Linked DNA regions of Homo sapiens. The protein of the gene in region 1 purifies or fractionates together with the protein of each later gene. This does not show direct contact. Each region holds a gene or a part of one and is shown in the gene's direction. Other genes may lie near its edges. The genes, in order: DNAAF1 and ANKMY2.

Region 1 (3,821 bases):
CTGCAACCTCTGTCTCCTGGGTTCAAGCGCTTCTCCTGCCTCAGTCTCTCTAGTAGCTGGGATTATAGGCATGTGCCACCCCGCCCAGCTATTATTATTTTTTTGTATTTTTTTTTCACTAGAGATGAGGTTTCACCATGTTTGTCAGGCTGGTTTTGAACTCCTGATGTCAAATGATCCACCTGCCTGGGCCTCCCAAAATGCTGGGATTACAAGCATGAGCTACCATGCCCAGCGCCTCGAGGACACTTTTTAAACTATGTTCCTTATTTATTTATAATTTTTTTTGGAGACAGAGTCTCGCTCTGTCTCCCAGGCTGGAGTGCAGTGGCGCGATCTTGGCTCACTGCAGCCTCCACCTCCCAGGTTCAAGCGATTCTCCTGCCTCAGCCTCTTGAGTAGCTGGGGCTACAGGCACGTGCCACCACATCCGAGTAATTTTTTGTATTTTTAGTGGAGATGGGGTTTCGTCATGTTGGCCAGCCTGGTTTTGAACTCCTGGCCTCAAGTGATCCACCCTCCTCGGCCTCCCAAAGTGCTGGGATTACAGGCACGAGCCACCGCGCCCAGCCCCTTGAGGACACTTTTTTAACTGTGTTCCTGACCTTTTCCCTGGTCTCAGAAGTTTGCTGTGAGCCCTTGATGTACCCACAAACACCCTTGTCCTCCCAGGACACTCCCACATTCACCTTTGCATTTTCTGCCATTAGGGGAGATGACATCTTCAGATGATGGTGAGAATGTGCCCGCCAGTGCGGAAGGCAAGGAGGAGCCTCCCGGGGACAGAGAAACAAGGCAGAAGATGGAGCTATTTGTTAAGGAAAGCTTTGAGGCCAAGGACGAGCTCTGCCCGGAAAAGCCAAGTGGAGAGGAGCCGCCTGTGGAGGCTAAAAGAGAGGATGGAGGTCCAGAGCCAGAGGGGACCCTCCCAGCTGAGACCCTGCTACTGTCGTCACCTGTGGAGGTTAAAGGAGAGGACGGAGATGGAGAGCCAGAGGGGACCCTCCCAGCTGAGGCCCCACCACCCCCGCCACCTGTGGAGGTTAAAGGAGAGGATGGAGATCAAGAGCCAGAGGGGACCCTCCCAGCTGAGACCCTGCTACTGTCACCGCCTGTGAAGGTTAAAGGAGAGGATGGAGATCGAGAGCCAGAGGGGACCCTCCCAGCTGAGGCCCCACCACCACCGCCCCTGGGAGCTGCCAGGGAAGGTAATGTGAGCGGAGAAACACACACAGACACACACACCTCTCAGGGAGCCCCAGCCTTCGACTCACGTCTCTGTGGGACCTGGGGCCTGAGTTTCACTTCTTCTGTATTGCTGTTTCTAGAAGATAATGGACACTAGTTATCTTGTTTTCTAGAACAGGGCTGCCCAACAGAAATGGAACAGGAGCCACTACTAGATTCTCTAATAGCTCTATTTAAAAAAGCAAAAGGAACTTTGGGAGGCCAAGGCAGAAGGACTGATTGAGGCCAGGAGTTTCAGACCAGCCTCAGAAATACAGAGACCTCATCCCTACCAAAACTACAAAAATTAGCTGGGAATTGTGGTGTGCCCCTGTAGTCCCAGCTACTCAGGAGGCTGAGGCAAGAGGATTGCTTGAGCCCCAGAGGTTGAGGCTGCAGTGAGCCAAGATTGTGCCACTGCACTCCAGCCTGGGTGACAGAGTGAGACCCTCCCTCAAAAAATAAATTGATTAATAAATTAATTAAAAAGTAAAAAGTAAAAAAACAGTAAAACTATTAATGACATGTTTAATTTAACGCAATATATAAAAAATATAATCATGTTAACATGGAATCAATATAAAAATTATCAGTGAGCTATTTTACTTTTTTCAAAAATTAAGTCATCAAAATCCAGTATGTATTTGACATGGCTGAACGGTAACTTTTTACTGGTGAAAGGTAGGCCATTCATCTCTGACATAAACGAAGCCCCGAGAGCAATGGAGGGATCAGAGCACAGGACCCAAGGATACAGCCCGGGGGAAAAGTAGGGGCAGGCCTTGCGAGGTGGCTCACACATGTAATCCCAGCACTGTGGGAGGCCGAGGCAGGCAGATTGCTTGAGGCCGGGAGTTCGAGACCAGCCTGGCCAACATAGTGAGAAGCCCCCTTCCCCGCAACCCCCAAGCCTCTACAAAAAACAATAAATTAGCTGGGCATAGTGGTGACCACTTGTAGTCCCAGCTACTTGGGAGGCTGAGGTGGGAGGGGAAGGGGATGGGAGGTCGAGGCTGCAGTGAGCTGAGATTGCACCACTGCACTCCAGCCGGGGTGACAGAGTGAGACCCTGTATCAACAAAATAAAAATAAGTAAATAAAAAGGAAAAGTAGGGGCCTGGATGAGGAAGGGGCTCCTCGCGATTCCACATTCCTCAGGCGATCTCACAGTTATGAAACTGCACAAGCTCTGACCCTGGTGCAGCAGGAGGGGCGTGTGCCTGGCTGAGGGACAGGCTGGCGGTGGGCTGTGAAGCCTGCCCCTCCGTCTCTGAGCGAGTCGCCCCTGCTGGCATCCCTTGTCACCCTGCAGTCGGCTGCCATTTCCAAGATTCCTGCGGCTGCTGCTTTGACTCCTGGCCGGTGCTCTTCATCTCATGGGATTCGCCTCCAGATTACAGAAAAGGGCAGCCGTTCCGTTCTTTTTCCAGCAGACAGAAGCCTGTGGTGAGCTGCCGTGTTTGTCATGGAGGCTGGCCTTTGGGCCCTGAGGAGGGTTTTTGTCTTTTTTTTTTTTTTTTGAGATGAAGTCTCGCTCTATCACCCAGGCTGGAGTGCAGTGGCACAATCTCGGCTCATTGCAACCTCCCTCTCCCAGGTTCAAGCTATTCTCCTGCCTCAGCCTCCCAAGTAGCTGAGACTACAGGTGCCCGCCACCACACCTGGCTAATTTTTGCATTTTTAATAGACACGGGGGTTTCACTGTGTTGGCCAGGCTGGACTCAAACTTCTGACCTTGTGATCCGCCCACCTTGGCCCCCCAAAGTGTTGGGATTACAGGCATGAGCCACCGAGCCCGGCCCTTGGGAGCCCATCTTCACCGTAGGCTCGTCCATCTGCCTGCCGTGTGTTAAACTAACTCCAAGACTTGTTGTTGCTCTTTAGAACCGACTCCCCAGGCTGTGGCCACTGAGGGTGTATTCGTTACAGAACTTGATGGAACGAGAACGGAAGATTTAGAAACCATTAGACTGGAGACAAAGGAGACATTCTGCATTGATGTACATGAAGTATTTAATCTTGGAGATAAGTATCAGTTTTACTGTTAGTAAAATAGGTAATCAGATGCAGACTTTGGAGACCCTCGATACCCCAAGTGTGGTCCTTGGGCCGGCAGGCCTGGCATTTCTGGGGCGCTGGTTAGAAATGCAGACTCCCAGGCCTCACCCCAGGCCCACTGATTAGAATCCAACTTTCATGCACTGCCCTAGGTGATTCGTGCACATGCATGCTCAAGTTTGGGGAGCCCTGACCCAAATCGCTACCCTTGAACCATGTCTACCAAACTCTTGATTCCTTTTTGCCAAAGAAGCTATCTTGCTAAGTGGTTCTGACTAGTTGCCTTATCCAAATTCGTGGTGAGAGTTACATTGTATCATCAGTTACATTGTATCTTTATACATTGTATCTTTTCCCCCCTCCGTGGACACCGCCCAGCAGGTAGCTTAGGCTCTCACTGGCCTTCTGGCTCATGGAGGTGTGACGGTTCAGTGTCCCATCCCCTTGAGTGAATGTTTGATCGCAGCCTTGCCTGTCACTCTTCCCTGAAGCTCTTCCCATTTTGTTGACAGTCTCAAATGCTTAGGCCCACAAGA
Region 2 (3,821 bases), on another chromosome or scaffold:
CTGTAGATGATTGGAAGCATCTTCAGGAAAATTTCCATAGAGAAATATAGTTAATTGGAAAGTAAAGCATATTTCATTTTTAGACTTCATTCTGAAAAAATCTCATTTTCTTGTGCTTAATAAGAATTAATGAGAATTGTAGTTCTCCTAGCCATGAAATTCTAGAGCTGAGTAATGTTAACTAAAAGTGGTTATTGCTCAATGATTTGATTCTTTATGTAAAATGTACAAATTTGTCATGTTTATCTTTAGTAAAAGTGAATTTAACAGAGACTGTAAAATCATGTGCTCTTGAATGGCATACTGGCACTGTGGTGTAGGTAGATGGAAGATCACATTATAACTTTGATATACAGAGTTCAAGAGATTCCACTATTTCAGGGTCTTTCTATATTAGTTCTATAAGTTCTGGGTAATTTGCATTCTAACAAATAACATAATAACTTCATGATCCTAAGGAAGGCTTTCTTTGGTAATCTTTTGAAATCAACTAAATGGACTACCTAATTTGTACATGAACAAGTGTCTCCTTTAATACCTGAGTACACTGGGATTTCCTCTAGATCGTGATGCTTGTAAATGAGAATCCTCTGCTGACAGAAGAAGCAGCCCTGAATAAATGCTACAGAGTGATGGATTTGATTTGTGAGAAATGTATGAAGCAAAGAGACATGAATGAAGTATTGGCTATGAAGATGCATTACATAAGCTGTATCTTTCAGAAATGCATTAACTTCTTAAAAGATGGAGAGAATAAACTGGACACCTTGATCAAAAGGTACTCTTTTTACTATGTCGTTTATAAAATACACTCAAGTGAATATTTTTTTTAATATGAAGCCTCATTATTATGTGTTTCAAAATTAAACATTTTGGCAGCAATTGCTGTTGTTGGACTCACATTTAGTCTTTGACAAACAGAGAATAATATTATACTTATATTGAGTGATTATTCAGTTCTGTATCCTTTACTGTGATGTTTTTGTTGTTACCAGCAATTTACAGATGAGGAATCTGAGGTTTGGAGAGGTTAAATAACATGTGTAAGATCACACCGCGAGAAAGTGGCCCAAGTCCAAATTTGAGAATATTTTATGCCCTAGGTCGCAGCCCTAGGTTTGTAATGGCATCCAGGGTGTCTCTGTTACTGTATCTTGGAGAGCTGTGTGTTATGCTGCTTCTCTGACCACCAGAGATCAAATTCTCTTGCATCCTTACCTAGAAAAGGGAACTAAGTCTGAAGGGTGTGGCTCTATGAGAGTTTTCATTCTTAGTACAAATAACTGACATGGTAATAAGTAACTAGCTAATCTGATAACAGTGTTTAGTGTGTTTTATGGTGGTAGTCACCTTTGCATATTCATTTAATGGGCTGGAAAACCTTATAAGGCCTAGCCTAACATATAGGTTGAACAGCAATTTGAACTGAGCCCGTCATCATGATTTGAAGAGACAAAGAAAATCATAAGTAACAGAAGAAACTACTAAAAACTGTTGGGTTCAACTAGGAGAGAATGCTTAGTGATTCAACTCCAATTACGCTTTAAAAAATATCTTTCAGCTTGTTAAAAGGCCGAGCTTCTGATGGCTTTCCAGTGTATCAAGAAAAGATCATTAGAGAAAGTATCAGAAAATTTCCTTACTGTGAAGCTACACTCCTCCAGCAGCTGGTTCGAAGCATTGCTCCTGTTGAAATTGTAAGGCTCCTCTTACCTAAGTTGACTCTATCAGTAAAACCTAATTCCCACCTATTGTATTGTTAAAGGCAAGTTCTCTTTAATATTTATTTTTATTATTTCAGAATATTTTTAGGAACAAAGGTGGAGATAGGTTTGCCTGCCAAACCTGTTCCTGTTTATTTATTTCCCATCTCACGATCCTCTTCTTACCTTATTATGGTTCATAGTTTCATAAACAGGACGTCGCTATGTTGAAATGTAGATGGTTAGGGTAGAAACTTACATTTTAAGTACATCCACTATGTAATATAGGTACACACATGTACACTTGTAGCTATATGAATTATCAGCACAAAGTCATACACTAGATGCAAGTATGAATTGATCACCTAGGGGGATAGTGTCCAGGCAGTGGGGATGTAGTGGGATAAGCCATGGGAAGGCTCATTGTGGTTCCTGGTAACAATCTCAAAGTATGCCTCAGCTTCCTATAATCCACCTTAATGCCTCTGATTAGAAAATGTCCATACTTACAACCTATTTATACTTACCCACTATATAAGTGTATTTTGTTAACTTTATCTGTTATTTAAATGACTTACTATTCATTTGTCATATATTTTAATTTATTTGGCCTTTTCTATTTTGCGACAGAGTCTGTTTCTGTCGCCTAGGCTGGAGTGCAGTGGCACAATCTCAGCTCACTGCAACCTCCATTTCCCAGGTTCAAGCGATTCTCCTGCTTCAGCCTCCTGAGTGGCTGGGACTATAGGTGCGCGCCACCACGCCCAGCTAATTTTTGTATTTTTAGTAGAGATGGGATTTCACCATGTTGACCAGGTTGGTCTCGAACTCCTGACTCAGGTGATCTACCCACCTCGGCTTCCCAAAGTGCTGGGATTACAGGCATGACCCACTGCGCCCAGCCACCTTTTCTATTTTGAATAGGTTTTTGTTTACCCTATCTATACCCATTCATGCTTTTATACGTTTCAATCAAAAACTTGATCAGCTTTTGTCTATCAGGCAAGAAATTGATCCTAAGACCAGTCCCATCCATGGCTTCCTCCCTCCCTCTGGCAAATCTGGTTCCCTTCTCTGTGCCTTCTCTCTGGGTTGTTATGTCATTCTCAGTGTGGAACATCAGGGCTTCAAGTGGGCTCCAGATGCTCCTTTGTACATTAAGAATTCACCTAGTCTGAGCCATAAAATAAACAAGAAAGACCTGAGCAGAAAAGACCATCTCATAAAGCTCATGCATTAATTTGTTCATGTGTGCTCCCCCTATTTTCAAGAGTTTCTTTACTCATACTTTTTAATATAGTTGGCTATTTAGTGTTTATGCTTTTGGAAGAATAAAGTTAGCAAATTATGATTTGTCAATTACAAATGTGTCTTGGCAGCACATATCAAAGCCCAACCAACCATGAATTAAATAGATGAGGGTTTATGTATTCACATATACATAGATGCCCAAAGGTAGGCAGACTAGGTCTGGCATAGTGACTTAAAAATAGTTTGGGGACCCAAACACTTTCTCATCTTTCCCTTCCAATATTCCTTAGCTGTGTAGGTTCTCATATGCATACTTATGATCTCATGGTTACGAGGCATTTGATGTTCCTCCTCCAGCTCACATTCCTATCCCAGGCAGGCAGGAAGAGCAAAGGGGTCTATATCTGGAAAACATAAGCTCTCCCAGAAGCCCTCTGCCTGTGTCACATGACTTTCCTTAGCTACACAGGAGTCCAGGAAAATTTTTTTTTTTGGCTTTTCTAAACACTCCTCCTCTGAACAAAATTACACTTCTGTTACTGAGGAAGCTGGGAGAATTGATATCAGAGAAGCAACTAGCAGTACCTGTTATGTGGGATTTCCAGCACTCACAAATGGTTGCTGACCTTTTACCTTCCTGGGAAAAAACAGAAAAACTAAAACAGCAACCCAGAGTTCTTTAAAAAAAAAAAAAAAAAAAAAAAGCAGGTCAATATTGTGGTCAACAAGTTATCCTAGCTCCATATAATAGAATAATGTAATTAGAGTTTATAGAGTATAATTATTATTATTTTTATTTATTTATTGAGGGGGGTCTTGTTTTGTTACCCAGGCTGGAGTGCAGTGGCGCAATCTCAGCTCATTACA

The links.
Region 2: the proteins of DNAAF1 (region 1) and ANKMY2 purify together in Homo sapiens (affinity purification with mass spectrometry; one large-scale study listed by BioGRID and IntAct). This does not show direct contact.

What each region holds. Positions count from the first base shown.
Region 1 is NC_000016.10:84,169,149-84,172,969, forward strand, and holds part of DNAAF1 (dynein axonemal assembly factor 1), read left to right. Parts: intron 1-710; coding exon 711-1,208; intron 1,209-3,111; coding exon 3,112-3,227; intron 3,228-3,821. UniProt on the Homo sapiens protein: Cilium-specific protein required for the stability of the ciliary architecture. Plays a role in cytoplasmic preassembly of dynein arms. Involved in regulation of microtubule-based cilia and actin-based brush border microvilli.
Region 2 is NC_000007.14:16,607,506-16,611,326, reverse strand, and holds part of ANKMY2 (ankyrin repeat and MYND domain-containing protein 2), read left to right. Parts: intron 1-563; coding exon 564-778; intron 779-1,561; coding exon 1,562-1,697; intron 1,698-3,821. UniProt on the Homo sapiens protein: May be involved in the trafficking of signaling proteins to the cilia.